Homo sapiens: one gene and its partner. The protein of the gene in region 2 interacts with the protein of the main gene of each other region in a pairwise test. Each region holds a gene or a part of one and is shown on either strand. Other genes may lie near its edges.

Region 1 (15,851 bases), on a different chromosome or scaffold from region 2:
ATCTGAGTTGTACCTTAGCAAGAGAAAGCAAAGCGTTCCGAAAATCTCCAGATGTGTCTGAGGTTATGTCTTTGGCCAGATCTCTCTTCAGTTCTGAGAAAAAAGAAAAATAGATTTTATAGTAAACCAGTGATGAATAATAATAAGAATATCTGACATCTCTAAGTTGGTTGAAAATTCACAGTGCCACAGTGTTCAATGACTTATGGAACATGTTGCAAAATATTATCATTTTTAAATAAGAAGAGAAAAATTAAAGCAGGTAAATTTTTGGATCATTGAATTTATTTCATATGAAGCAATGGGAGCAATTTAGATAATACTGTGATTGAAAACTCACAGTCATAAAGCTTTCGTTAAGAATAAATTGTATAGGTATACATTAGTAATTAATTCTGAAATACAACATGGCAGAATTTAAGCAATAGAATGAATAAAATAATTGTTTAAAAGAACAAAATGAGGTACTTGCTTGAATGCAAATTATTTATTTAGTTTAAAAACTATAAATGTCTTATAAGTAATGCAGTTTGATGATTTATGTGTGTGTAAACACTTCTGCTTAACTACATAAAATAATACTGTAATAGGAAAAAATAATTGAATTTATAATTGACTAGTGCTATGGTTTTCATATTGTTTGTTTGGCCCTGCCAAGTCTCATGTTGCAATTTATTCTCCACTGTTGAAGGTGGGGCCTGTTGGGAGATGTTTGGATGATGGGGGCAGATCCCTCATGAATGGCTCGGAGTGAGTTCTCATTCATAGTTTCTTTAAGAACTGGCTGTTGAAAAGAGCCTGGCACCTCCTTTTCTCTCTCTCCCTCTCTGCACACATCTGCTTCTGTCTGCTTTCTGCCATGAGTAGAAGTAGTATGAGGCCCTCATCAAAAGCAGACGCTGGTCCCATACTACTTGTACAGTATTTCCTTTCTTTTTACATTACTTGGTCTCAGATATTTCTTTATAGCAACACAAACGGACTAAAACAACTTGAAACTGGGCAATGTAATAAACTATCACTGGCCTATATCTTGGCCATATGAAAAATATATAAACACTTATTTTTATAAACTATGTTTTATCAAACAAAAATAATCATCATTATTACCACTGACACATGGATCTAACATAAACATTGGTAATTAAATAAGAATTGCAGAAAATGAGGTTTAAAAGCTTCCTTATTTTTATTCTTTTATTAAATTCCTCTGAAAATGATATGCAAAAGCTATTGTATTCTCCATGCTTGGTATGAGAATCAAGCAGAAAGATCTTCTATATGCCATATATTGCATTGGGAAAGCCAAAAAGCCAGCAGCTCAGGGAAATGAGAGTAGGAAAATGGTAAGAGACTTGCAATTACCCTCTTTTCAGTGTTGAGCACATCATTTAAATGAGATGCTTCACTGGAGAGATAAAATAAGCTAAGACTAGTCTTTTATTCTGTGAATTTAACTAGAGATAAAGTGAGTCTCTTATGTTCATAACGATAAAGTTAAGGTTTCCAACAGAGAATTATAAGCACCTAATTCTTTACTTTTTCAAGGACAAATGAAAAACATTTTGTTAGGAGATTTTTTTGTTATTATATATTCTTTTCAAAAAAAATGACCTTGGGACATTTTTATAAAATACATTCCAGAATAATAGAAAAGTGTTTTTCAGAAATTTTTAAAAATTCAATGCTCTGAATTGAGGTTTCCATTATAATCGTATGTGGCCATTTATCCTAGAGGAACATTTTCTATTAAAACGCAAGCTTGATGCGGATTGGGACACCATCTCCCTTGTCAGCAACCTAGCAACTCAAGCGTTGCCTGGTAACAGCATTTAATAGACATGTGCCAAACAATAAAGAAACATTTTGATATGTGGAGATTCCAAAGCTGCCATAATTACCATAGACAGTCAATTTTAAGAAAGTATATTAGATTTCCTTTTCAAATAAGGCGTTTGGACTGTTGGACATTACAACTTACCCTCTCTGTAGACCCTGTTAATGTCTCTGATTTCTTTGTTAGTTCTTGATGCCAAAATCTCAATTAGAGTATCTTCATCAGTTCCAAGGCCCTAAATTTGAAGAGAAGAAAAGGATAAATGTAGAAAAAAATCTTCATGCAAGAGGATCAATGAGTTTTTGGTGTTCCAAAATTTGTTTGACTCTGTCATTTAGTAAATTTCACCCACAACATTTAATAATTACAATAAGCTCTATTACATTGCCCTAAAACAAAACAAGTTTATCATCAATATTTTGGGTAAAAATAAAAATGCAAATATATGACTCATATAGTGACATGACATGGAAGGTGTTAGTGCCAACATTTCTGTTTTCATTTATATATTAATTCCTTCATTGAGGTATTAATTTATTTATTCTTCAAACTCCCACTGATTGACAGGTACTATACTAGATTTTGAAAATAACATAAGCATAAGTGACTTGCCCAATACATCCTCTTGAGGAAAGGAGTTTGCTCAAATTGGGCGATTTACCTTCATGGCAGCACGAAGTTCATCAGCATCAAATTGCGCTGGAGTTTTTAGCAGAGCTAAAACAACCTCCTCAAGGTGACCTGTAAGGGCTTTCTTCAGTGTTTCATCCAGGGGCTACAAAAAAAAAGATTAGAATCAGGACTTCCAATAAGTAACATGCTAGGTTAAAAAATGTGATATTACCTGACTTTAGGTCATCGTACAACTCATCCCTAAACCCAACCATCTTTTAGAGCTTCTTCCCTTCACATACAAAGTGTACCAAATATTTTGAAACATTATCTTACCCTTCCAGATCTAGAGGGATTAAAATAAAATTTACTGAATTCATCAATAACTTCTTAAAGCATAGGGTTAGTAATCTTATACACAGGGGAGAAATCACAAAGATCAAAACACAGAGGACTGTGTGCTAACAGAAAACAGAAGTAAAATTACTTTTAAAATAATATATTCATGTTTCCAATCTTTGAGGTTTGTACTTCTCAAATAACAAGCAGTATAATCAGATACTGAAATTATATAGTTTTCTAATTTCATTGCTTTAGAAAACTACTCATATTTGGTATAAAAGACATAAGGCTTATTTTTAAAGTAGAATTATATATAAAATTTAGGCATTAAACAGTTCAGTTTAAATATTAGTACATTTCAATCAGACCATATTCTTTATTGACAGCAGCAATCTCGATGTTTACGTTCAAATTAAAAATTTGTCCCCAGAGCACCACATCTGCAAACAATATACACCAAGATGACTAATGTATAAAAATAGGAAATTTGATAAAATTGATTAAATTGCAACAAAGTGGATAAACACTGCAATCCCAATCATAGATGTAATGAGAAAACAGTGGTTAGAACCTTAAAGAACTAGGTAACTGTGCTTCCGAATCCATGGTTAAGTATAACTATGCTGAAATTAAATATCTAAATTTACCACTCTAACTTACCTTTCCTGTTTCCTGGAGATATGCTGCTTTGATCTGTTGACGCTGTGCATTGTTTCGCTTAGTTAGAATGTCAATGATGGTTGCTTCATCCACACCTGGAAATAAAGGGCCAACAGCCTTTAACACCAATTTTCTTCATCATCAATTGACATAAAATAATTCATTACTGAGATGCTCCAAAAGAACTTCTTAACAAATTAAGAAATATAAATTATATATCAGCCTAAAAAATCGATGCTATACTACATATCAAGGAAGCACTTGGGAGAATGACATTTCATTCGAGTGAGAAAGGAAGAGACAATTAACTTTTCCTGGCCCTCAGTGTTGCAGTGTTTGATACTAGTTGCAACTCTATATGTGAACAGAGCTTTTAATTTCAGCATGGAATTTCTGCTAGAAATGAGCCAGTAATATCTGCTGTAACAATAGAGATTCCACTGATGTGAACACAATTTCCTCAGTGTTAAGTAAATAATTACATCTTCGTTTGGCAAAGAAATGTTTTTATCTTCAAAATGAAACAGATTCTTTCCATTGCACATGTCTGTTTTTTGACAGTCATTCAAATAGCCATTCTGAAATGTCCAGGAGGGAACTGTTTTGAGGAAACACGTTACCTTTAACCATTATGGCCTTATGCAAGGCAGCGACATCCGAGGATGGATTGAAGGTAGGATAGGGGCTCACCGCTGATCCGGGACCACCTTTGGATGACTTCACAGTTTGCTAAGAATGAGAGAGAAATAAATTAATGGCCATTTACTTATATTCGTTTTTATTTCAATATTGTAATCATAATTTTATTATCACTCTACTTACAACATATTCCTGCTCTTCATTTTCAATAAACCAGGCCTGCTTGAGGAATTCTGATACCATTGCCATTTTTGAAAAAGTGTCTGGAAAGAAAACAGTTAGATGCTTTTACAAAACAAATGCACCACACACAACCTCTCCTTCCTCACCTCTTACATACATAAGAGTTAGCATTAGAGAGTAGCCTTGCGCTTACTTTCCAGGATCAATTACACTTAGGAGCATAACAAAATGTAAGACGTAATTTTTTTTAAAGGAAGCTTTTATACTTAAAATGAAACCATACCCTCCTCTCTGAAATTGAACTCTTTCTTGGCATATTCAGTTCTAAATTTTAGAGATCAGACAACTACTACAAGTAAGCACACAGGCTGAAGAGAGGAGTTTGTGGTTCACTACATTGTTCTAAATTTGTAGACCACCCACCATATGCCAAGCACTAAGAGTACAAAAACATTGAAATATCATCTTAAGTACCCTCAGGACTTAAAGCTAGTGTGTGCTCTCCATAGGAAAACATAAGGGCTAAAGAAACTTCTTAGAGTAGGCCCTGGCTGACCCAAGCCTCTCTTGAAATGAGTCAAGATTAACCTGGCAGAAAAGTTAAAGAAGAAGCTTGTCATATTTGGGAAGCAGAAGAAAGTTTGCTGGAGCGAGAAATGTTGGCAGAAGCTGAAACAAGAAGCTTCAATGTGTCCACAAAGCTTTGGGAAAACATTAATGGGTTTCTTTTTGTTTGTTTGTTTTTTTAAAGCAGCATGGTTTCATTTATGTTTCCGAAAGACCATTCATCCTTTATCATGGAGAATGGCTAAGAGATAGACAAGATGGAGGATTAGAATACTATTTAGTAGACCATTAGACCATCTATGTGGAATTAATGAGAGCCTGTACAAAAGTAATGGCTAGATGAAAAGCTTAATGATTGCTTTTTTTTTTTTTTTTTTTTTTGAGATGGAGTCTTTCTCTGTCGCCCAGGCTGGAGTGCAGTGGTGAAATCTCGACTCACTGCAACCTCCGTCTCCTGGGTTCAAGCAATTCTCCTGCCTCAGCCTCCTGAGTAGCTGGGATTACAGGCACCAGCCACCACGCCCGGCTAATTTTTGTATTTTTAGTAGAGACAGGTTTTCACCATGTTGGCTAGGCTGATTTTGAACTCATGACCCCAAGTGATCTGCCCGCCTCGGCCTCCCAAAGTGCTGGAATTACAGGTGTGAGCTACCACTCCCAGCCAATGATTACATTTATAAGGTAAAATAACTTGTGCCAATCTGTACAAGTGAATTCAGATTTAAAATTTTAATTGTAAAAAGATATCCAGGTGATATTTCTCCCTGAATAATTTAGTTTCCTTTTCTATTTCTTGATATAAAAGTACTCAGCATTGAAGTAATTGCTATCTTCACATTTCTTCCTATTTGAGCTGTCTAAATAGTAGTCCTACATATTTTCCCACCCAACACAAAAAACCCAGAAAAGAATTATTTTATACTGGATTTTTTTGTTGTAGCAGGAAGCCTAGAGGTGCAATTGTAACATGCATGTTCTTTTGGCAAACTCTATCTTAAAGGAAATTTCTTGAATTGCTATCATGACTTGGCAATATTTTTATTTAATGAGACATATATTTTTAAGATCTTAAGTATATTGAAAATTAATGTGTTCTCTGTTTTGGCCACACACACACAAAATGCCATCACAGATCCTTTTAGTCTGGGGATGTTTTTCAGAGGCCTTGCTCAAGGTCTACACTGATCTGTCTATCTACACCATTCTGTTTCACCCCTCTAGAGACTACTCTCATGAATGTTTGTGAGAGAGGTTGGGAGGACAATCTTGGCAGTTTTAAATTCTTGATATGAAGATAAATGACTCATGAGGCATAAACTGATTCCATAAACTGATTCCTCAACAGCATGTTCAGACAAACTCTTTCCATTTTCACCTGCTAAAAAGTAACTGGAGTTGCAAGTAATAACACTGAATGCATGAAGAAAATAATATCCAAAGCAGAAATCATCCCCACTTAATTCGCATGGGATTGCTCTTATTACTATTCTGTCATCTGTGAGAAGAACCAATACTTTTTCCATTCATTTAAAGCAGCCTGTTTCCTAAATATAATTGATAGACTTAAAATTGCTTCCTGATAAAGTAACAACCCGCAATTTTGCACAAGGTTTTAGTTCCCATTACAGTCTAGTTTCATGCAATTGCGGTTGCCACATGGAGTTTCATATTCCACCTTCTTAATTGGCACACCCAATACTTTAAAAGCAATTCTAGCAGCTTCAGGCACTCAAAATTTCCATTTTCATCATTTCATCCAAGGCTTTGATAAGGAAGAATCATCAAAATGAGTGTTAAAATTCATCACTTGGCAAAGTACTACTCCATCACTTATAAAAACATGTTTTTATTATTTATTTATTTTATTTATTTATTTATTTATTTATATTATTTATTATTATTATTTATTTATTATTATTATTATTATTATTCCATTCTTTTCAATTAGCAAATAAAAACTTCAAAAGAAAGCAAAAGAAAGACTAAAGATATTGTCCAGTCTAATATTAAAGGTGTCTCTGACAACTTCAAAATAAACGTTATAAAAACTTTACTGTACTGTTTTTTTTTTACTTCTAAAAAATACTTGAATAATGTCCATTTAAAAAAAAAGCCAGAGAAAGCCCAGGAAAAGGTATATTAATTACATAACACAAGATAACAAAAATAAGTTGTTTAAGTCACTTATTTGAAAGAGAGAGCATCCCTAGAGGAGACAGCTTTGTGATTTGTATCTTCTAAGTTCCTACATTCTAGCCTGAAGTATTTGGATAGACTAAAAGCATAATCTAGGAAAGAAAAGCAACCAATAGAGAATTTTCTTCAAGAAATCAATTAGAGAAAAACGGAATCTGAATTCAGCCAAATTCACCACCAGCTCTTAGCAAAGATTAAAGACAGGAGCATCAAGGCAGGATATAAGAAATTGCTCTAAAGGAAACAGATTTTATCACATACAGCTGGTTAAGGGCTCAAAGCCAACTGCACGTATTAACTGAACTTCTGAATAATTATAATACAACTAACAAATACCAAATATATATTTTTTTATATATTGGCCAAATTCTATCCTTAAGCCGTTCTGACTCTTCAATACCTACACTCTGCATGAAAACCTGCCTAAGCCAATGAGTTCATGAAAGGTTTTCTTTTTTCTATCTTTTTGTTTGTAGTGTATAAAGCTTGCAATAGATTTTAAAGAGCCTGTTCTATCAACTTATAGATTTCAACTAACTCAATACAGATTTCAACTAACCAAAGATAAGCTCTAAAACTAAGTTTATTTCAGTACTTAGCATGAGCTCATTGACGGTGAAATTGGCCATTTATACATAGGCAAATCTATAAGGAAATTAACAATATTTCACATTTCTTCTAATTAATGGTCTTTTTGTGAACATGCACTGCCTACTAATGTCAGCTTATCTATGATTTGAATGTATAGCTTTCTAAAGCGTAGCAATTTTTTTGCATATTTATGTGTCCTAAGAGAGTCCCCCCGCTTCATTTTTCCATCTCTCAGCCTCATGAAAGGCTACCTCTATCTAGAATTTGTGACAGAGGAAGCTGAGTTTTGTGGTTGATTGTATCTTCCTGGTTACAATCTAGAACTATCAGAGTTTTGCAATGATAGTAACAGCAATGACTAACCCTTGCTTGGAATAATAGCCTTTAATCATTATCCTCAGTTTCTATCTGGGAAAACTGAGTGCTATTTTCAAGCAGTCTTCCTGCTAGTAGTGGCAAGAATGGAGACATAAATCCATCCCTTTTGATTCCAAAGTGTTATATATTTTGGCTGTGCATGGTGGCTCACACCTGCAATCCCAGCAATTTAGGAGGCCAAGGTGGGCAGATTACTTGAGGCCAGGAGTTCAAGACCAGCCTGGCCAGCATGGCGAAACCCCGTCTCTACCAAAAGTACAAAAATCAGCCAGGCATGGTGGTGTGCACCTGTAGTCCCATCTACTCAGAAGGCTGAGGCAGGAGAATCACTTGAACCCAGGAAGAGGCGGAGGCTGCAGTGAGCCGAGATTGTACCACTACACTCCATCCTGGGCGACATAACAAGACTCTGTCGGGAAGAAAGAAAGAAAAAGAAAAGAAAAGAAAAAAGAAAAGAAAGAGAAGGGAGGGAGGGAATTAGTGACCAAAAAGAAAATGACATGATCAGTGTTCTTTTAATCACTCACACCTGAGAATCAAATTCATTAACAGTCAACTTGCGCAGACCGTAGCAGGTTTCACCCCAGCCTTAGGGAGTTTATTTTTAAATGCACGGCCTTGTGCATAGTTTTTCCTCGAATATGTATTTCACAAGTCCTTCCCACACCTTCCCTGGTGAGAGAAAGCAATTAAGACTACACAATGGCATGACTTACAGAAAGCAATTTATGAAAGGTAGCCTCACTAATGTTTTGCTTCCAGGCTTTTCGATAGGGTGTTCTTCTTGCCTGGAATGCTTGTTCCTCCTCCACATTCACTTCCCTTTGCCTAACTAATTGCTACTTCTAAGTGACTCATCAGCATTGATCTCATCACGTTCTTCAGAAACCCTTCATTAGTTCCTCAGCACTGGATTCGGTGACCTTCCATGCTCTCCCAAAGCATCCTGACTTCACCCCTACACCAGCCCCACCTTTCTGTATTATCACTTTCCATTGGCTTGTTTATATTCCCCAGGAGCAGGCCATGAGGCCCGTGCTAACATACAAATAATAATATTCATTATGTATGTACTTCCAATCCCTAGCAAAATGCCTGGAATTTAGGATGTTAATAAGTATTATTGAATGAATATCATGTATCATTGCTAATATTTTAAAAAACATATCTACACTAATTTAATGAACATTTTCTACCCACAACTATAGGATATAAAATACAAATTGAAGTATACTGGTTCTTGATTATCTGGCGATCTGACCTCAAGAAAAACATTTAGCTTCTCCAGAGGGTCTTCGTTTATAAAATAAGAATGTTGAAGTAATTATCATCTAAGATCCATTTACAGCTCTGAAGTGCCAATCTTAAATATTACTTCAAGTAGATGAAGATGAAGAAAATTAGCATAATGAAGGAAGGCATTATATAAATTGGATTGTTCTGAGCTTCCTGATGAAATTCTGTCCAATTTTAAAGGAAAAGGAAATAGTTGACTTCAAAAAACTGTTTATAGTTTATCATTGAAAAATAATAGGTCTGCTGGTTTACCTCTGATTTGAAATGTCGTAAATTAATAGGTCTAGAGAGAGCTAACGTCATATTCAGAAATCAACCTTTGCAGACCTTCTGGTTGAAAAAGTATTTAATAAGCATGAAACTCTGGCTGGTTCCTTAATAATATTATTATTAACTATTTTGTCAACATCTGTTAAATGTTGGCTATGTGCTGGATGTGGTTGAGCCTGGAGCTAGGGTGTTACTGTCACTTTTGGGGAAGAGGCCATTTCAGAATTATGAAACCAACATTTTACCACATTTGAGTCATTTGCAATGTGCATTCTCTTACAGCTACCAAAATACTCCTGTGGAAAGAGGGCAACATTGCTTTCTCAAAGTTTTTACAATCTTTTAGATATAACCAAGGCAAGAAAAATTCCATCCTTGTTAATTAGCTAGCAGTGAACATAAGAAATCAGAACATTTAATAAATATTTAAAATGAACGAACAGAAAAATTCTTGAAGGAACATGTTTAAGAAAAAAATAGCCAGATACATGATTTGTAATCTCACTTTTACAAATATATCCAACACTAGTAAATACTCTTCTTTAGTTTTGCTTTGTGCTTTTCTAAGGAGTTTTATGGCCATTAGCTCATGCAACAATCAAGTGGAATAGCTGTTGGAGGGCCTCACTGACATTCCCCTAGGATAATGTATCTGACACTACCCAGAAAGTATTTCCCTTCTTTTTAGGTTTTCCAGCCAGCACTTGAAAAGACTGTATATGACACAGAGCCTACAAGAAAAGGAATGTGGCCACACCCTCTTTAAATGAAAAAAGTAATAAGCGGACCTTCTTATTTTAAATAGCATAAGCAAATATAACATATATTTTTAAATGTTTATTACAAAGAGCATGATTAGCACTTTGAGGTCTGAATCTATCTTGTTTTCCTTACAAAAGAAGAAAATAAATTATGAAAGTCCTACTATTTTGAAACAGTTCCCTGCAGCCCACTCCTATCACTTTTGTTCTTGCCCCCAAAAAGCAGCCCCCATCACGATTTCTCTGTAAAACACACAGCTCTTGGGAAGAAATATTTCAAGGGGAAGGAAAGGAAAAACACATTCTTTTAAGGCTACCAGAGGGAAAGCACATTCTTCCCTTCTTTCTCATGGTAACTTACCAAGAGTACAATGAGCCAGTATTAAGCAAACTTATCTTATTTTTACTTGTATTTGTTAACTAAGTAGAACAAAAATATTGTAATTTGTGATTCCTAAAATATAAATATCCAATGTAATTCTACAGAAAGATTTATGAATGACTTATCATGTTAAATGCAACTAACCATAAATCCTGTAGAAGCAGTAACATTTAACATAGTGATGAGAAAAGTTTTCAAAACAACCAAAACTAACTAAAAGGAAAACCAAGACTTACCTTTATCTCTACCTTCTTGCAAAGAACTAAAGAGAAATTCTTCTCTGAAGATTTCACACTGGCAGTGGAGACTTGGGCTTCTGATTTTATAGGATTTTAAAGGAAGCCACACCTAGCAACCAGAAGTTAGTAATTGGCTGCCTTCTGTTTGAAGTACATGGCTCAGCTATGTCCAAAAACAAAGTGAAACAAGTCTTGCAAAACTACTCACTAAACCAATTCAACTGGCATTACAAAGGAAAAGAAATGGAAGGGCTGATTTTTCCTCCCTCTTTATTTTGCACTTTTATTTCCAGATGGGATATTTATTTTGCACTTTTATTTTCAGAGTATACATCTGCCCCAATCCTAATACCAGTGATTGGCACACTTTTGTAGTTAAATAGGTTGTAGACTAAAAAGTATGTTACCTTCAAAACTAAACAAACCAACAAACAAAATATTACATTTGAATTCCACCTCCATCACTTATTATTCTGTGACTTTAGGGACATACTTAATTTTTCTGAACCTGTTTTTACTTTTGTTTTGTTGTCTTTTTCCCCCGCTTTTTGTGGAGAATGGGGTCTCGTTATATTGCCCAGGCAGGTCTCAAACTCCTGGGCTCAGGCTATCCTCCTGCCTCTGTCTCCCTAAGAGTTGGAATCACAGGCGTGAGCCACCATGCCTAGCTGTTTTTACTTTTGTATATAGGAGCATTATCTAAGTTGTCTACCCACTAGAATTCTTGTGACAATGGAGAAATAACATATATTTGTAAATTTTAACATTACACAGTGCCGAATAATTTTCTATTTATATTTTTCTTGCCTTAAAAAATAAACGACTTTTGTTCCTAGATATAGCTTGTTGTTATAAATAAGAAATATAGAAGTAATAAAGTTCCAGATTGGCTCAAAATTTTGAACAAAGGTAATGCCAAAAATTTGATCATTATGACATTCAATAAAAGCATTGACATCAGAAGGCCTATCTACATTAATTCTTTTAAATAGAGTCAGTTACATAGAACTATATATATAAACTGTAATATAGATCAGTTATATATACATTTTGATACACATCTTTGACATTGTAGACTAGTTGAACACCAAAACAAGGAACTAGACCTATAAAATGAAAGGATTAATGGAGCAGCAACTATTACAGAACACATTCCATAAGAAATTTCCCACCCAATGGAGGAAAATTGGTTCTGGTAACTTCCATAGTGGTTCATTTTCATTCTTCTTTAAACCCTACAAAGTATTATATGATGTTTCCATTAAAGTGCACAGGTGTAAAATCTCACAGCATTATGGCTCAATTTATGCTGCATTTAGTGGTTTGTTCTTTTTCCTCTTTTCCTCATAGATATTTCACATAAAAAACATGAAGTTTAGGAAGTTAATGAAAATACTTTCTAAAGATTGGCAGTATTTTATAATACATTCTAAGTGCTCGATGCCAATATCAATGAAGTCAACATATCCTGAAGTAGGATGATCATCTAATCTAAATATTTAAGAAAATGTCAATATATGTTTTTACTATCATATGTGTAAGTTGAAAATTAATTAGTTACCTGCTAACAAGTTAAGTTAATTGATATTATTGCAAATTGATCTTGACAGATGTAGACTAACTTTCTAATACCATATTTATGTCATCAGGTGAGAAGGAATAAGATGATTATACAAAATCTGGTTTTCTTTTTTTCTTTAATTTGCGTTTGTATTCCTAACTCTGGTAATGGAACTATTGGAACATTCCTGCACAGTGATGCTCTTGTGAAATGAAGAAAAAATTCCACTTACTTTTTATAAAATATAACAACCTAGAAAACATGTATAGTCTCATTTTGCTTTGTTGCTGCTATTACCAGTGCCATAAACTGAATGGAATTATTTTATATGTTTGGATTTGTAATACATAGGCAAACCTAAAATAGCAACAATAAATATGATAATTGTAGCAGAATTAAGAAAAAAAAAGTGAAAAGAATGTTTTTCCAAAATTAACTTCCAGCTGTAACACTAAAGGCAAGTGAAACTCCCAAACATAACACAAAAAGAAAGCCACTAATCATGTAGGTATATTGCTGTGAATAATCTGTCAGAATCTTTTTCTCCGCATAATAATAATGTCGAGTAGATTTATGGAAATAAAAGAACAAGTAAAATATGTTATCATTAACAGTGAGGGGATAATCATGGGTTAAATGCTTTCTGTGGGTGAAATGCCACATACTCCAGAGAAATGACTCACCACTCTTGCTGTTTCTAGAAGATGATGATTCATCGGCTCCACTTACTTTACAAACAGAGAAAATAAAGAAAGAGAAGGAAAGAAAAAAGACAGTTAAAATCAATCTCTATATGTTACGTTTTTCACAGCATGTTTATTTTCACTCATTTGGTTTAGAATCTGATAGTGAAGAGGAAACAAAACAAAACAAGGAGAGGAAATATGGAGTCTCTCACATACATCTCATTGTGCATAAGACTCTTGCAAAATATCTGATCTTAGTAAGCTGTCCCCTCATCCTTTACATTTAACTCTATCTAAGCATTACTTGTTATATGGAAGAAAGAGTATATTCTGAATGATCAAGAACAGCATTTCACAGATATTCCAAAATCTCCCCACAGCTTCCTCATACCCCCTATCCACAGCCAACAAAAATCATTATTTTAGTGTGTGTTTCTCATGTGTCCCCAGGTCAAAGCATTTTGAGGGCTAACATTCTAAATGTTTTCCCTTTGCCTCTAAACATGGCAAATAATTATCACACACACACTGAGTTATTGAGATTATTATTATTATTATTCCTCAGTTATTCACATGAATTAAAGACAGAATTTTTTTTCAAATTTTACTCTTTCAGGTTAATGAAGTAGTCATGTGGGTAGCTAGAGCCAAAGGGAGGTACCTTTGTTGGACTTCACTTAGGGAAAAAGATCTTACCTCCCTGCCTCTCTATATTTCCTTTTGTGGGTGGAAAATCTTAGAGAAGATAAAAACTCAAATTTGGTGGTGGCTTAGTATCTATTACTGTGTGACTTAGGAAAAGTCAGCGAATGACTTGGTGATTCAACTAGTATACTTCCAACATCAGGATCATGCTAGGATTAGTAATTTTGTATTGCACAAGTTATTTTGTTTAATCCCTGAGTATAGTATCCATATCCCTCTCTATATTATTCGAAAGTAAGAGAATAAGACCTTGTCACATTCGCTATAATAACAAATTTTACTTCAATAATTTTCAAGAAGTTTTGCAGAAGGAAAATGAAGATATGTGTTAAGGTCAAAAGGTCAAACTCTGCTTTCTAGGTTCCAGCTGTTTTAAAATAGTCTGGCAGTTTCTTACAAAGATAAACAGAGTCTTACAATGCAATCCAGCAATTGTGCTCCTAGATATTTACCCAAATGAGTTAGGAAACATGTTTACACAAAAACCTGCACATGTATGCTTATAGCAGTTTATTCATAATTACCAGAAATTGGAAGCAGCTGAGATATTTTTCAAGAGGTAAGTGAATACATGGACTATAGTACGTTTATGTAATGGACTATTACTCAATGATAAAAAGAAATGCTTTTAAACCAGGAAAAGAAATGAAGGAATCATAAATGAGTATCGCTAAGTAAAGGAAGACAGTATGAAAAGGCTATGTCTGTTTCATTCCAATGAGATGCATTCTGGAGAAGGCAAACTATAGAGAAAGTAAAAAGATCAATGGTTGCCAGGAGTTGGTGGCAGGGAGGAGTAATAAATAAGAGACTTTTAGGGAAGTGGGCTGGGCATGGTGGCTCACACCTGTAATCCCAGCACTTTGGGAGGCCGAGGCGGCGGATCATCAGGTCAGGAGTTCAAGACCAGCCTGACCAACATGATGAAACCCCATCTACTAAAATACAAAAAAAAATTAGCTGGGCGTGGTGGTGCACGCCTGTGGTCCCAGCTACTCAGAAGGCTGAGGCAGGAGAATCACTTGAACCTGGGAAGCAGAGGTTAAAGTGAGCCAAGATTGCCCCATTGTATTCCAGCCTAGGCAACAGAGCGAGACTATGTCTCAAAAAAAAAAAAAAAAAAAAGAGATTTTTAGGGAAGTGAAACTATTCTGTATGATACTGTAATGGTGTATGCATACATTATGGATTTGGCAAAACACATAGAAATGTATAACATGAAGAGTAGGCCCTAATGTAAACTATGGCAATTAGCTAATAATAATGTATCAATATTGGTTCACCAATATAACAAATGGACCACATCAATCCAAAATATTAGTAACAGGGGAAACTAAGAGCAGCGGGAAATTGAGTATATGAGAATTCTCTGTACTTTCTGCTCAATTTTTCTGTAAACCTAAAATTTCTCTAAAAACTAGAGTCTATTATGAAAAAAAGGAACTTCATTTGATTATATACTTTCTAAGATATACCAGGACCATATAATTTCTAATATAATAATTCAAAAATTCTTATGTAATCAGAACACAAAAAATACAGCAAGTCTTCACATAATCATTGCCAACTCCATGGATTTATGACACGAACCAAAGATTAATATCCTTAAATTTAATAATGACTTTTTTTCAATTTCTATTTTAACTCAATAGGTTTAAAAAGTGATTTAAAACAATTCTTTAAACTAGCATAGTTAAACAAAAACTGGATCTTTATACTATCTTAAAAAATAAAAAAACATGGATCTGGATGGATCTGGAATTAAAATGGGAGTAAATATATAAAACAAACAATAAACTTTACAAGATATTCTGTAAATATCTTGTAGCTAAATTTGTAATGAAAGTTTTCCAGACCAAGCCACAATAAATGTTTGCTTTGCATTGGTTGGGGTGATTTTGGTTAACTTTATCATAAATAGATTATTATCCAATAGAAAAATGAAA
Region 2 (15,851 bases):
AAGGTTGTAGGAAAGAGGACTGCAGCTAAATGATCCACAGCCAGTACCCAACTTCTCTCAAAATGCGCTTCTGCTTTAGAATAATAATCATATCTAAAAGACAAACGGAAAAGTATTTAATTATAATTAGTCACCTCAGAAGTTCAAGCTCATTGCCTTCAGAAAATATTGGTTCTTGCCAACAAACTAAATTCATAATTTTATAATTTAGAAAATAGGCTTGATATTGTGATGACTTTATTCCATCCCTCAGGAGGTGTGAAGTTGGCTCATTAAAATTCTAAATCTAGGAAGAATCATCTCACTAATTGTTTACATTTTACATTGCATTTTATCTTCTTTAATTCAGCACATTATACTTGAATACCACCTAATAACCAAAAGTAAGGCATTTTTAAATCATACTCTTTGCCAATGTAGAGATAAATATCAAAGGTCTAAAGCAAAATTTTTGCTAGACTCAAATATCCTTTGTGAAACTGTTGATTTCTTAAAGCCAGGGATCCCAGAAACATTGAGATTTCTAGAAAAATAATATCTAGATCTAAATTGTAAATAATTGGCATTCTTCTACCACAGGAAGCCTCAGGTAGAAAAAAAGCCTCTGTAATTGTTAGAAAAGACTCTGTAATTATTAGAAAAGCCTCTGTAACTATTTGTCCCCATAATAGGTGAGAAAGTTTAGTTTCTCCTAAGAAATGGGGACAAATAATTACAATGGAAAGATTAAAGTTATATTCAGTAGTTTTAGAACTATAAAAGTCATGTCTTCTGTTTCTATGAGCTGTCTAAGCATGCTAAACAACTTGTAGTTTTGCAAACAGACTTGTTCTCCCTGAGACATTGTGTACTCACCATGTGGTTCAGCAGGTACATTCTGTTTCAAGTCTCATCATAGATATTACCTTCTTCACAAAGGTGAAGGGCATTCCAGCCCACCTGAGGTGGAATCTACCACTTTCTTCTCTTCTATATTCCCATAACACTATATCATCCACATATTTGAAGGATTTTTTTCTCTAGTTATATTCTATTATCATGTCTAGAAATTCGATTATCTGATTTTATTTTGACAGCAACATAGAAAAGATACATTAAACAGAAGGTACTTGCATTATGCTTGTTGAGATTAAATAAACTATAACATAACCCAGATAATACCTGTTATCTGTTTGATTCCTATGCTTGTGGGATCCTCCCTGCCCTATACTTGGAAGTGGTAGGGTGGGCAGAGTTGGATTGTCGATGACAGAAGTGTTTGGTCGGGATTCAATGCCCCTTAATACATTACAGTCACCTACCAAGCAAAGATGAAAGGAAATATGAAGTCATAAAGATTTTGAGCAAGGGCCACAGAGGTCTAGTAACAATGTACTAAACAAATTGGAAGTAAGTCAGAATCACTGGGAGAGAAGAGATGAGTGCACCAGTTCAATACACAGAAATCACAAGAGCAGTGAAGAAATTCAATAATAAACTCTTCAAATGCATCAGTTGAATGATTTGTTGGTCAGTTCACCTAATGATCAGATAGAATGTGGTCACCAAAGAAAGAATTAAAGTACACTTGAAATGATTCACATAAAGTTGAAACACAGGCATACATAAGTCAGCCAATCTGAGGATACAGAGCCACAGAGTTTTATTTGAGTATATGCAAGCTACAAAATATACAGTACTGTCTCAAGTAAATACTCCTTAATATATATTTGCCTAAAGAAAGTAACTTGATGAGCTTTTAGGGTTGTTTCACAGCATGCAATAGATTGTAACCATGGCCCCAGTTGTTCTCCAATCCCTACAATTCTGTCTTCTGCTATGTAACTTTCATTACCAGTTCTTCCTAAATTAAGTGATAGGCAGAAATTCCCACTCCTGACTCAGTCATGTAACTTGACTTAAAAAATACAATATTAACGATTTTGACATAGCATAAACTTGAAATACATTTTCACAATTTGGTTATTCTTTCTTGCAATTCTGCCATCATTATGGAAAACAACCAGGCTTGTCTGATGTAGAATGAGACGGGGAACAGAGCTGAGCTTCCCCAGTCATCCCTGCTGGAGCCAATCAAAATCAGCCAACATGAGAGTGAACCCAGGAAAGATCAGCAGAGCAGCATATCTAAACCCCAGACATCTGAGCAATAAACACAGTTGTACAACACTGAGGTTTAGTGATTGTTGATTGGGCTGCTTTCTTTCAAACAAAGCTAACTTAACTCAGAGCCTCACACATAGTAAATTGCAGGGCCCTGTTTTAAACCCTGTCAATTTGCCTTTAAAATCCATGTTCTTTACTACTGCTTTTTGTCATGGTGATAATAGTTACTTTATATTGAATATTTCTCATATGCCAGCAGTACGTTAAGCATAACCTATGGATTTCTTAATTAATCCTCAAAATTGCCCTATGTGGCATGTACTATTGTTATTGCTATTTTAAAAATAAGAAAATTGAGTTTCTCCTTGTTTGAACTCCTAGGTCAAATGAGCCAGGATTTAAAACTCAGGTCTGTGGAACTTCAAAGCAAAACATCTTAATTTGTACATTATTACTTCATTTCAAGGAACAATCATTAGCCTTGAATCTTGTAATATGAATTCATAGACCTTGACAAAGCAGAGACCTCATAAACAGGTAGATTAACAAATCAGAGCACATAAGCAGGTATTTGAAATCTTCCAAAATAATCATATTAAAAGATTTACCTTTTGCCAATATAAGCCTTTGAAAATATTCAAATTGCCTGAGGAACTATTATTAAACTTTCAGTGAGGTGAATTAATAGAAAACATGTATTTTTAGCTTTCTTAATAGTGCACCTATATATAAATTTATCCATAACACAATATTTTATTATATTCTGAACTGATCCCAATTAAAGAGACAATAGAAGGGAATTTTTAGGTAAAAGAGTTTTTTAGTAAAAATGCTGTTTTTAACAAATACTTGTACTTTTGCAACCTAACAAATCTCCATAAAAATGACACAAGAAATAAAATCAGAACACGTGGGGAACAACAAGATTTTGGAAGCTGAAAATTGAAAAGAACTAGTTGAAAAGATTTAATAGAATCAAGAAAATTAAATTCTAAGTAAACAGAGAGGAAAATAGAAAAATAATGCTGATATAATTTGTAGAATTCTCCTCGATTTAAGTCTTAGTAATACCTTCTGGGTAAAAGGAGATTGCTAAAATCAGGGAGATTAAAAGACTTTAAAGAAGCAATCATATACAAAGATTTCCTTCCAGATTTCAAATAGTAGGTAACTGCCACTCCTTGCCCTGGAAAGGGTAGAACAGAGGGTCCTTGAACTGTGTGAACTAAACATGGTTGAAGGTAGGAACACCACCTTGGAAACAGGATATAAGTGTAAATGATATACTGAATGCAAAGACACTCTCCCCTTGCTTCTTCCTTCTCTCTTGACTTCAATAATACTAACAGCCAGGCCTTCACTTCTGAAGCAGGTGACTGAAAGAGTCTCTTCTGGAAACTGGGTGAGCTCAAGAGAAAAGACTTGAAGTTATTGGAACCATAGTGTTGAGACAGCCAAATGCCTAGGCAGATAAAAAGGGGTCCCCAGAGATCCTCCAACCTTCCCCACAAGTGTTTACCTCAGATGCTTTTGTGCAGATGAGGAAACATGCCCAGGGCCTTGTCTGAGCATGCCCGCATGCTCACTGGCAGCATGGGGTGGAGCCACAGGGAATTTGCACCTTACACAGGGGAGGAGCCTGCTCTCTTCAGCTCGAGTGGTGGCCTGTTGTTCAAACTGTGAGGTAGGAAACCTGCTAGCAGGACTCTCTTGGTTTGCTGAGAATTATTTTTCCTTTTTCCTTTTTGCCCCATAAATTCCATTCCCCTCACCCTTCGAAGCGTCTGTGTGCCTGACTTTTCCTGTCAGTGTGCCTGACTGAAAGTCTGTGTGCCTGACTTTTCCTTTGCTTTTTGGGACTGTTAATAAACATATTTTGTGCCACACTGACAAATTTACCATGAGAAAACACGTGCTTCTAGAAAGTATAATTCATAGATTTATCAGTCTACAGATTACTGGCACAACAGTTCACAATTGCTTGTTTCCTAGTGTTCACTGGAAATTTAGGTTAATATGAGTTAAGATTCTTAATTATATATAATTGAAATCACTAGAAATAAGGAAAACAAAGCTATATGCAAGTAGACAGGTAAAATGTGCTTTTGGTAAGAAAAGCTATAATATATGAGGATATTTCGTTTTGTTCAAGAAACAGAAGAGCAAATTTTATCCGGGTATGGAATGACAGGTTGTTCCAAAATGAGAAGAGAGGAAGTATAGGACAAAAACTGAATGTATAAGAAAGTTATAAAAGGTGTGTGAAAGATAAATCTTGTGAAAAAAAATTTTGTGTTGATCAAGTTGGCTAAAATTAGAAGAGAATTATTTATACGTTTTTCTAAAAATCAAGCATTAATATCAAAGGTACACTGATGCAAAACTAGAATTTGTTTCCCTGTGTTAAGCCAAGGTTTTCTTGGAGTATTAGTCTGTTCTTAGTATGACACTGTGAAAAGTTTTTCTTTACCCTTGAAGTAATTGTCCTACAAAACAAAGATTCCACATTTTACTAAGATAATTTCCTGTGCTTCATGTTGTCTTCATTAGGTTTTTTGATCATTTAAACAACTGAGTCCTCTCTATAAAAGATCGAAGGTTTTTCTATAACTATGTAATTTTTCTGCATTTGCCTTTAAAGTCTTTAAATTATCACTCTGATTAAAATGGATGACTATTATTTCCAAGTGATCTGTGATCCTATTTTGATCAAGTATTTTAAACCTTTGATATTTTTGGCAAGCTTCCAAAAAATCAAATTCTAAATCAAGTATTTTTATTGACCTCAAATTAATTTTGGGGCTTTGCAGATGGGCCTTTGGGACATCTCAAAAGGATATCCGTCCTTACAAAAAGAGAGATGTTAAAGTAATTGGGCCTATTTGATAAATAATATGGAAAGCATTGTCAAATAATAAGTAATGTTAAACCTTCTTTAAGTTGTATTTGTATGGATGTGTTATTAATATATGTTCCAGAAATTTTATGAAATTCCTAGAAATCTGATCATCCCATTGGACCGAATGAGAGTTCCCAGAACTGTTAGGAAGAGATTGATTGATTCATAAAACTTCTAACCCAACATCAAGTAGAACAAGAATTAATTGATTACTAAGAAAATGCTTTGGCAGATTTTCATGCTATGTCAGCCAGAACTGAAATTGTTTAGATAAGCAGTTTGAACAAATATCATGAGGTTGACTCAAGTCAAATTACCTATGATAACCTATTTAATAAGCAAGCTATTGACCTGATTTGGAAATACAAAACTGACTTTTTTTTTTTTTTTTGGAGATGGAGTCTCACTCTGTCACCCAGTCCCCAATCTCTGGAGTGCAGTGGTGCAATCTCAGCTCACTGCAACCTCTGCCTCCCGGGTTCAAGCAATTCTTCTGCCTCAGCCTCCCAAGTAGCTGGTACTACAGGCCTGCAACACCACGCCTGGCTAATTTCTGTATTTTTACTAGAGACGGGGTTTCCCATATTGGCCAGGCTGGTCTTGAACTCCTGACCTCGTGATCTGCCTGCATTGGCATCCCAAAGTGCTGGGTGTGCCAGCCAAAACTGACATTTAAAAAAATATAAATTCAATGTTAAATATGGACTCATGGAAAGCACAGATGGCTTCCTAGTCCTTCCTGGGTCCTAAAAGCTTCCATTATTAAAAACTCTATACTCATCATGGAAGAGATAAAATAATCCAAACTATGAGGAAAATATTGGTGGAGTGACTATTCTGAAATGCCTTATCACTAATATTTGGTTTGTTAAACTGATAATGCTGGTAAGGCAATAAAAACCTCAAGTGATATATTTTTGGCACATGCTGGATCATTTGAACACCTACAGACATATTTAATTCAATTGCCACCTTCAGTGCATATTTTCTGGTTTTATAAGTGCTTTTCTATGCGAGAAGGCAAATGCTATAACAATAGTGAAAAGGTTATTAGAAAATGTCCTTATAGGGCATTCCTGGAAACATCTCTAGCAATATAGGCACTCATTTTATCAGAAAAGTTGTAAAACAGTTTAAAAAGGTATTACAAACAAAATGGCATTAGAAAAAGTTAATAGAATTTGTTGGATTGCATTGGTCAAAGGTCCTACTGATTGACAGCAATCAAATCCACTCCTATAGGAAAAGACAGATTGACTCTTTATGAAATAGTTTTTGGAAGGACTATGTCTCTAATAATAAAATCTCATATATCTCATGTTCTTCTAAACTCTGATATGACTCAAAATTATGAGGCTTCAATGCATTTTGCCAAAGCATATTTTCACCAGATAAAAGAAGCCCTTTGCAGCCCACCAGCTGATAACAACCAGATTTTCCATGTTCTAGAACCTAGAGATCAGTTCTTTTGGAAACGACACCAAAGAAAGACTGCCTTTGAACTCCATCAGAAGGTACCACACCAAGCTCTTTTTTGCAGCACAACTTCAGGGATTTGAGTCTTGGATCCACATTTCTCAACTCAAGAGAGCCCCTCCAGACCCCTGGGACTGTACACCCATCGGAGATCTCCAGGTAAAGCTTACTAGGAACGTTTTTTTTCCCCAGAAGAAGATGGCATCCTTGATGTAGACAGCTTTCCCAAGATCATGAATAAAGTCTTTTCTCCTCTGTCAACATGAAGTCTTTTCTCCTTTTCCTTTTTGGCCCATGTTTCTTTTCTGTCTACACATGGCAATATAATGTGATAATGAAGATTTCATACTCAATTACTTCTGCATGGAACTTAACTGAGTATTGCATATGTCATGTTAAACCTAAATCCTCACATGATCTTAGAGATACTCTGGTTCACCCTGTAAGAAATTTCACTGATATTCCATGTGCAATATCTAGTTCTTTCTAAACAGCTAGACTTTTAGATTCAAATATTCAGATTGCCTGTTTAAATCTAACAGTAGGCAAAACCTATAATGAGAGTATGGTAATTAAATTAAGCCAGAATTGAATTTGAAAAACAAAAGGAAGATAATTCGACGTTTGTAGGCAAATTTATAACCCTAATCCTTTAGTTGCTAGTATCTTCTAACCATACAATGATTAAAAAATGAGGCCTTAGACAAATATTACTAATGCTGACTCATAATGCTGACTCATAACGCACAAGGCATCTCACACAGGAGACTATCTGTAGGGTTCTTCCAGAATATATTTTTATTTGTGGAGGATTTAACAACCAACCATATATGTGGGCAAATCCATGTCTCAATAATTACAAAATAAGGAGCCACCGACAATTAAGGGATTCCAAGAGTACTCCTGTCACTCCATAACTAATTGGAAACTGGATATTGGTCTGCAACTCTTAATTTGAACTATGGAATAAAGAGGAATTTACCAGCAGGTATGAATTCTTCTTAATGGGTATTGTTGGGTAAAAAATTCCTTCCCTGGCTTTGTATAAATGTAAAGGAGGTTATGCTTAGAAATACGTCTCATACATTAGTTACTACAGCTGACTCTACTGCAAAGGCTACAATTGGCCAGCAAACTTCTTTAGATTTTCTTGCTAAAGGCATATTAGGTAACCGGATTGCTTTGGACTACCTTTAGGGAGGAATATGTGCGCTAGCTAACACTCCCTCCTGTACTTAAGTAAATTCATCAGGTAGGGTAGAAGCTCAGTTGTAAGAAATCAACAAACAAGCCAATTGGTTAAAACAAGTAGATTTTTCTTCTGGCTTATTATTTATATATTTGATTTATGTTGGTTCAATTCATTGAGGTTCCTTCTGTCTCTTAGTATCAGCCTCCTGACAGCCATCATAATAGTTTCCCTGGTGCACCTTAACCTCCCCAGAGTCTTAAATCCTCTTATGCAGCTATTCATTCTATGTCAAATGGTCTCATTAAAATTAGAATAATGAAAACATAAAGAGAACATAAATAATCAGTCAACTGTCCTGATTTGTGAACTGTGAATTCCATACTGATACCAAATAAGTCAATGATGAAAGTGACAGAGAGTGATGTCAATGCCCAAGGTTTTGGTCAACCTCTCAAAATTGAGAGGCAGACCAAAAGGTGGGGAATTGTTAAATTAAGTTTGGCCTAAAATTGCCACGATATGTAGCAAACTGCAACTTAATGTAGTTTGTAAACAAACTGCAACCAAACTTAAGAGTATTTTCTTGTAACAAATATGGGTCTCAGCCAATCATGGCAGCTGAGCTTCAGCCAATCACAGGCTGCCAACTGATCAAACCATGCCTATACAAGGCAAATTTCTCACCACACTATGTCCAAATGAGGCAAATCTGAGCTGTAACCAATCAAGGTGTTTCCATATGTCACTTTCTTTTTCTGTCTATAAATACTGCCTGCCCACATCACTGGGTGAAGCTCTCTGAACCTCTACTGGTTCAGGATGATGCTGATTAATGAATCATTCATTGCTTAAGTGAATTCTGCTACATTTATCTTATCTATAGTTTTTCTTGTAACAGTGTCTATGATTAAATAATAAAGGTCATCTACATATTTATATTATATTTTGTTTTCTACATTTAGGAAAATGTATTGTCTGTTGCTTTTTTTTTTGTTTTTTCATGCAAGGCTTTTTTTTCTCAAAATTTTCCCCTTCTTCATAAAACACTTTTTTAAGCCTGATCATGTTAAAATATTTACACATCCTCACTATAATCTCCAATGGTTAGGCTTATTATTTAATATAAAGATTGAAAAACACTCTAGAAGAAGAAGAAAAATATATAAATAATGCCCAAAATTATTTATCATATTAAATAGAGATACTTTAAAGATTCATTCTTACCTGTCTTCAAAACTTTTGATATTATCTGCCAAGGTTGAAGTGTGTGCAGCCCATAAGTACTTCAACAGATCATCAAACTTACTAAAAGGTGACTGCAAATACTAAGGTAAAGAGGTCAAATTTATTAATATTTGAGCAACTATAAAATCCTTCTCCCTGAAATTTAGTCATGTTCAGATATATTTTAGCAATATTGTACATAAAAGAAGAATTTTATTTCTAAGAAAAAGTATGTATATGGCCTTAATGCCTAACACTCTTTAAATAACACAAAAATATTCATTAGTTTTAATAATAGCATATGCATCTATAAGTATTGAACTTCAAGTATTTTCAGAGTTTATATTTTATACCGATCAGGCCTTTATTTTTTCCTGTTAACACTGTTAAAATTACCATAAAATCGTGAGTAACAAAAATATCTTCTTAAAATGTTTCATTAGATCTAAACTAATGCAATAATCTACTAAAGTACTAGTAAATATATCTTTTCTTCATTGATTTTAGTCAAATTTCTTCCAATATCCTAGTGGACATGAAGACTCAATTAATCAGAATAGCTTATTAATCATTCAGCAAAATATCCTGTATGCTCACCATTTTTGTATAATGTATTTGAGGCAAGAAGAATGGATAGATTTATGTTAATGCTGTATTGAGGCAGTAGGTGTTAATGACTCATAACACTCTACAATATACTATTAATATATCATGCATAGCAATTTACATCTGCATACTAAGGAAAATATTATGTAATGCACAAAAAAATCCTAGACGAAATTATATGACAAAATAAACTCTCTTCCTATCTCGTAAGAGTATAAAGAAGGAACCTGGTAAAAGGTGTTCCACTTGTTCATTGTCTCAGGGAAGGATGAACGACAGCTAGAAACATCATAACAAAACTTCCTCTCATTCTTGGGTGGGGGCAAAAGCCTGACTTGGTCTGATGATATCCCCATTACACCAGAATCAACCGCAGCAAGAAAGGGTAATGAAGACAGAAAATAATTCAAATCTGTAAGAACAAAAGATTTACTATTACTACAAGCACTAACAAATTTCAAAGAGGATATTTTTAAGGAAGGCATAAGTCATAAAAAAATTCACAGACCCAGAAACATTATAAAAGCTAACCATTAGGAAAAAAATATTGAACAAAAATCCCCCTAAGGATCAAATATATAACTTTGATTGCATTTCTGTTAATAACCTTATAGTCATAAATATATAACATATTGGCTAAAGTAGTTGACTATATTTTAAAACAAAAAGTAATTTTAATGGATATCATAATATTCATTTTTTCAAAGCATTAAGTAAGAATGGAAGAAAGCTATCAACTTTTCCACAAAATGGTACAAAACCTCTCATTACGGTTTTATTGTGAATTGTACTTGTATTTTTCTCTAAAATATTTTAACATGATTATAGCTTTGGTAAATGAATGTTTTCTATTTTATACACATAAGTTTAATTTGTAATCATGATATCACTAAATTTTTATCTTATTTTATCCTTTAAAGCACAAATTTTGGGTAAGTTTTGACAATAGACCATTAGACTGACAATCAAACATGACTATTTTCACATTTTAAAAAATTTTACCTATATATCACCTATTCCAGCAGACTCAGACATTTTCATTAGTTGGATATTAGGCTTATACTGATTTCCACTAGAAATCAGTGATGTAGAATATTTCATCCTAGACAGGCATTTGTGAATGGAATCCTATGCCACAGTGTAGCAGGCTAATCCTCCAAACTACTAAACCAATCTAAGAATAACAAACTCTGAATTCTAGATCTGTGGCCACTACTATTCGCGAGTCTTTTAAAAGAACTAGGGGTAGTAAGTGGAAAATGCTTAAGGATACATATGATGTGTGTTGCCCTGAAAAAGTGAAATTTAATGTGGTCGTGTTTCTAACTATTGAGAAATACCTCTAAGGATTTGTGGTATAAATTGTTTTCATTACTAAAGCATAAAATTAAATGAAAGAATTAGAAAATACCTTCTGGTTATTTTAGCATTAAGTATATGATTAAAGCCTGAGATTACTGATTGGTATAATGAATTGCAGTAGGTATTAATCTCTGGCATGTTTATGGGTTTCAATATTAACCACATCTGGTCTGAGCAAAATGAAAAAGCATCATTTGTCTTGATGTCTCACTTCTCATCGTTCCTTATTCTGGAGATTCTTTGTCATCAGTTGGACCTCCCACCTAACTACCAGAGCTGGCCCCTCAGAGGCCACTGCTTTTGCAGAACCTTGTTTTCGTCCTTCTGTGAAAAGCTGGATATGTCCTAAGGAATCATTATTGACATTGTGGCTCTTAAATCCCTTAAAGTGACCTAAAGGCCATAAGGTACACGGTGAAATAGATTCCTTTTTAAAATAGGAACAGGATTATTTTAGTTCTGTCTCTGTCCCTAAGATTTTAGGTTTGAATGCTTTCTTTCAGGAAAGGTTAATATCTATTTTGCCACTTAAACGAACATACCAGCCCACCAACTGTCCACAGAGATGCACATATGATCTCCAGATTCATAGCCACAGTTTGTCCTTCGGGTTGGATCAGCTAATCTGCCTGGAGGAGAGAGGATGCACAGTCGTATTTATTATACGCATTTTGAAACTGGCTGTAACTATTGCTTAACCACATAGATTTTGTTTGTAGATACAAAAGCATTTATTTCTGAATGATATGTGTTTGTATTCCCATCATTCTTTTTTTATCTTTTATTTTTTAGTTTCTAATTTCTTTCCTTTTCCTTAACAACACAGTTTTCTACTTTTGAGTTATAGGTCCTAAATATTATTTACTTTTGTAAGGATACTCTCTTCTATTTCCTCCTCTACCTTCTAATCGAAACTATGAAGCAATATGCATACAGATGAAAAGAGATGGTCGAGAGTCAAAACAAACCCCTGCTCTACCACTTACTAGCTTGACTTTATCTAAATAACCTCTAATGCCTTAGTTTTCTCATCTATGACATGGGGATAATAATATTAACTACATTATAAGGTTGTGATGTGAGGTGAGAAAAAGCACCAAAGGTGTTTCACCTGTAATATGCATTATGTAAATATTAGAAAATAATCATTGTTTTTCTTCCAAATGAAATTGCTCTTTTCTTAACCTCTCTCTCACACACAATAATTTCTTTATTGGCTGTGTCATCAGCAGGGAGTGGGCAACAGGCACCACTCTTTCTCATGAGCTTCTATCAACCAGAACAAAAGTATCTTTCAATTCATGTATATTTTATCCCAAAATGTAACTTCTGTCTATACACTGTAAGGTACCTTATTTCCAAGAGGAAGCAAACATTTTACAGAGAAAGATCTTCATGAACAATGTGATGCTTCTTTATAACCTCATATCATAATTAGAACTTCAAGAAATTCAAACTAATTGGACATCACTTTGTATATCCCCTTGACTGTTTTGTTCATCTCATTGCTTAGAAAGGAGTGTGGCACTTAGTAGAACTTCAACAAATATTTGTGAAATGCTCAATAGATGAGATGTGATGTCTTTTCACAGTTGATAACTATGTCTTATGCCTCATTGAAGCTTCTAATAATAACACACAACCCACAAAAGAAGGATTTGTGGATAAGGAGAAGGATAGGTAGAAAAACAATGATTATAAGGGAAAAGAGAACAAGATAAAGAATCAATTTTTAAAAACATAGTAGGGTATATACAGAGTCCAATTTCCCAAATACTTCATAGGTCTATCGGTAGATCATTACAATGAAAACAAGAGTCATTCTTACCTGTCCTATATTGCCAGCCATACTGCAGAGGCAACCCCCATAAAATATTCTGTTCATTATCTGGTGCAAATTTTGCAAAATACCTGGCTGTCTGATTCAATATGATTTTATACATCCCCATTCTCTCAAGGTATACCCAGGGATTAATAATGTACATGCTGTTCTCCACCCTGTAGTCACTGAGCTGACCAGGACTCTCCTTCCACAGAGGGGGCTCTGTCTCTGAGAGATTGGAAGTCCCTGCTAAGGAAGCAGAAAAGGAACCAACTAGTACACAAACCCAGGAAGGAAGAAAAGCCATTGTGCCAGAGCTGGGGATTGCGATCGTAGCAGGGCTTTTATTGGAGAATGGAAGAGGAAGTCATGATATTTGCTAACCTCACAGCATATCAACACTTTGCTTTTTTGTTTTCCTGGATAGGGTGAAAATGTAGAAGAAATTGATGTATTAGCTAACATTTAGGACAATTAAATTTCCCAGACTCTTCAGCGTCAGAATACTGTGTCAGAACCTAAATACAAGGTTAGGCTTGTTTATAATGTATTAGATAAAACTATTTATCAACAAAAACCTTCCAGAAGTTTCCCAGGCTGCATTGTGATTACAAAATACATCACAAATGGCTTTAGAATGCTTCCCTCTAATAAAAATACTTTAACATATTTCATGGAAAATATTAAATAGCTGGAGATGGAAATACTAGGATTTATAATAATCTTCAAATGTGTACTAAAAATATGTGTGATCCAGTTGTAATACAATGTTCTGCTTCAAGAAAGAAGCTTAAAGAATATCTAATTAGCTCAATTCAATAATGAAAGTCAGCCTGCTGGAACAAAACCTGCTAGTTAATTCTTAATATCTATTTTTCATTCTTTATTAGTAAAAGAATCGTAGAATTTTAGCTGGGAATATGGTCTCCCAGAATTAAGGCTAAATTTCCAATTTGCTTTACACAAGCAACCATGTGACTAAGTGTGGACCACAGAGACATAAATAGAAATAGTATCCACAATTTCTGGAACATGTCCTAAAATGAAGGGCACATGTCAATTCCTCTTCCCTTCCTCCATGTTGTGGCTTGGATTATTGATGTGATGATTGAAATTCAATTCTGACCCCTAAACGCAAGGCACTATCTTAGGGATGACAGAATGCAAAGCTGGAGGTGGCTTGAGTCCCAGAGGGCTGTGGAGCCATGAGATGTCCTTGAATTCCTATATCTGAGTTTTACCTGAGCAAGAAACACCCCACTCTCTTGTTTCAACCACTGTTATTGAAGTTTTATTCACACATAGTAAAAATTCTTGCCTTATTAATAGGTAATGCATCTGAAAATCTCAATTATTTACACAATTAGATGCATATGCTTCATAGTAGGTCACTGGTACTGCTTGTTCCTGGCATGGTCCACATTAAACATCCTACAGCATGATTCCACTCTTTTTTCCTGTCATATTATTTACCCAATAGCCATTTGATAATTAATAAATTTTCCAGATATATTAATATAAAAGGGAATGGTAGGAATTGCTACTATAGATCAAGAATGCAATCATTCTGGAAATTTTAAAAGTATATTAAATGTTTATAAGAATATATACGTGAATATGTACTGTAAGATGTGTTACTCTAAAACCAAATGCCAGATTGTTCTCAATGGAGAAATCTTAAGAGCACTCCTTTAAGGTCAGAAATAAAATAAAAATGACCACCAGCATTATAATCATTTAACTTTTCTTTGAGGATACCAAACAATAAAGTTAGTAAAGATAAATAAATTAGAGGTATAAAATTGAGAATGAAGATGTGCTAGTACTTTCCCTTATAGATGATATGACAGTGTTCAGAAAACATAAGAGAATAAACTAGAAGGGTAACTACAAAGAAAAAATTTACTAAAGTGGTTAAGAACTAAATTACTATATATAAATCAATAGCTTTTATATATAAAAGCAATTGGGAAATATAATAGGTGAAAATGGAAGAAAAGTCCTCATTTTATTGTCAACAAAAGGGCCAACATATAAATGTATAATTATGGTAGATCTGTTTGGAAAAATCTCTAAGACTACAAAAAAATTGAACAGTTTTAAAGTCATACAATGTTTCTCAATAGACTCAACATTATCAACATGTTAATTTATAAATTTGTACAATAAATGAGAAATATTAACAGGATTTTTAGATGTGCTTTCTGGAAAGATTTTTAGGACTGAGGCTAAAATTTGCCTAAAAAATAAATTATGAAGAAAATACAAAAACTCTAATAATAATGGATAATAATAGTGAAAGGAAACTTTCCATAACAGATATTAGAAGATTATTATAAGCCCTCAAAAATTAAAGTAACACACCACAGTCATTGATGTAATAGTGTGACCAGTTACAGGTTAAATAAAACAGAAATATTGAACTATATTAGAGAAAGATTTTAAATGAAGACCAAAATACAAATGAGAATTTAAAGAGGAGCTATACTGGAACTAGATCTAGACATTGCTTCTATGTCCACTAGTGGAGTAGTTATTGGAATCCCATATACAGTGGGAAAAAAGTAAGAGCACATCTTGATGGAAAGATATTTGTTAAGGATATAAAAGAAATAATGTCAATAGTAGAATCTGGATCTTCTCATGCAAAAATTATTAATAGAAGAGGAAATAAGTTAGACGCTTACAAATAAACCTCAAATGAACATCAAACATATCACGGCATGCACTGATAGTTACATAACGTGATATTCACTCTTCTCTTATTTCTTTGTAAGAACACCCTTAATCCTTAGCACAACAGAGTCTTCCTGGAATAGAGATTATATTATTTAGTCTCACTGCTAGATGTAGCTACTTGATAAAGCTGTGGCCAAATTGTTAAGTTGCAGCTTTCAAGGAATCTCCTTTATACCTTGTCCTTTATTCTTTGTTATTTCTTCCTCTGCTGGCTGGAATGTAAATGTAACTAGAGACTGATGCTGTCTTAGATTATGAAGGAGCAAGAAAAGGTAGGAGAACAATAAAATAGAAGACTTTTGGTTTCTAGTCTCTACAGCTCTAGATTGTCTACTTCTGATTGCTGTCTCTATGAAAGAAATAAAATTTTAACTTAAGGCAATTTTTTTTTATGGATTTGTACTGCTTGGAGAACCTAATCTGAA

What was found.
Region 1: the proteins of C6orf58 (region 2) and ANXA1 interact in binary tests that used the Homo sapiens proteins (3 or more experiments, as listed by UniProt).

The regions. Positions count from the first base shown.
Region 1 is NC_000009.12:73,147,024-73,162,874, reverse strand, and holds the start of ANXA1 (annexin A1), read right to left. Parts: upstream 11,011-15,851; 5' UTR 10,951-11,010; exon of another isoform or gene 8,552-10,950; coding exon of another isoform or gene 8,533-8,551; intron 4,354-8,532; coding exon of another isoform or gene 4,340-4,353; coding exon 4,274-4,339; intron 4,181-4,273; coding exon 4,072-4,180; intron 3,547-4,071; coding exon 3,452-3,546; intron 2,613-3,451; coding exon 2,499-2,612; intron 2,073-2,498; coding exon 1,982-2,072; intron 94-1,981; coding exon 14-93; intron 1-13. UniProt on the Homo sapiens protein: Plays important roles in the innate immune response as effector of glucocorticoid-mediated responses and regulator of the inflammatory process. Has anti-inflammatory activity.
Region 2 is NC_000006.12:127,574,329-127,590,179, reverse strand, and holds the start of C6orf58 (protein LEG1 homolog precursor), read right to left. Parts: upstream 13,007-15,851; 5' UTR 12,995-13,006; coding exon 12,694-12,994; intron 11,495-12,693; coding exon 11,408-11,494; intron 9,916-11,407; coding exon 9,731-9,915; intron 8,999-9,730; coding exon 8,898-8,998; intron 94-8,897; coding exon 1-93. UniProt on the Homo sapiens protein: May be involved in early liver development.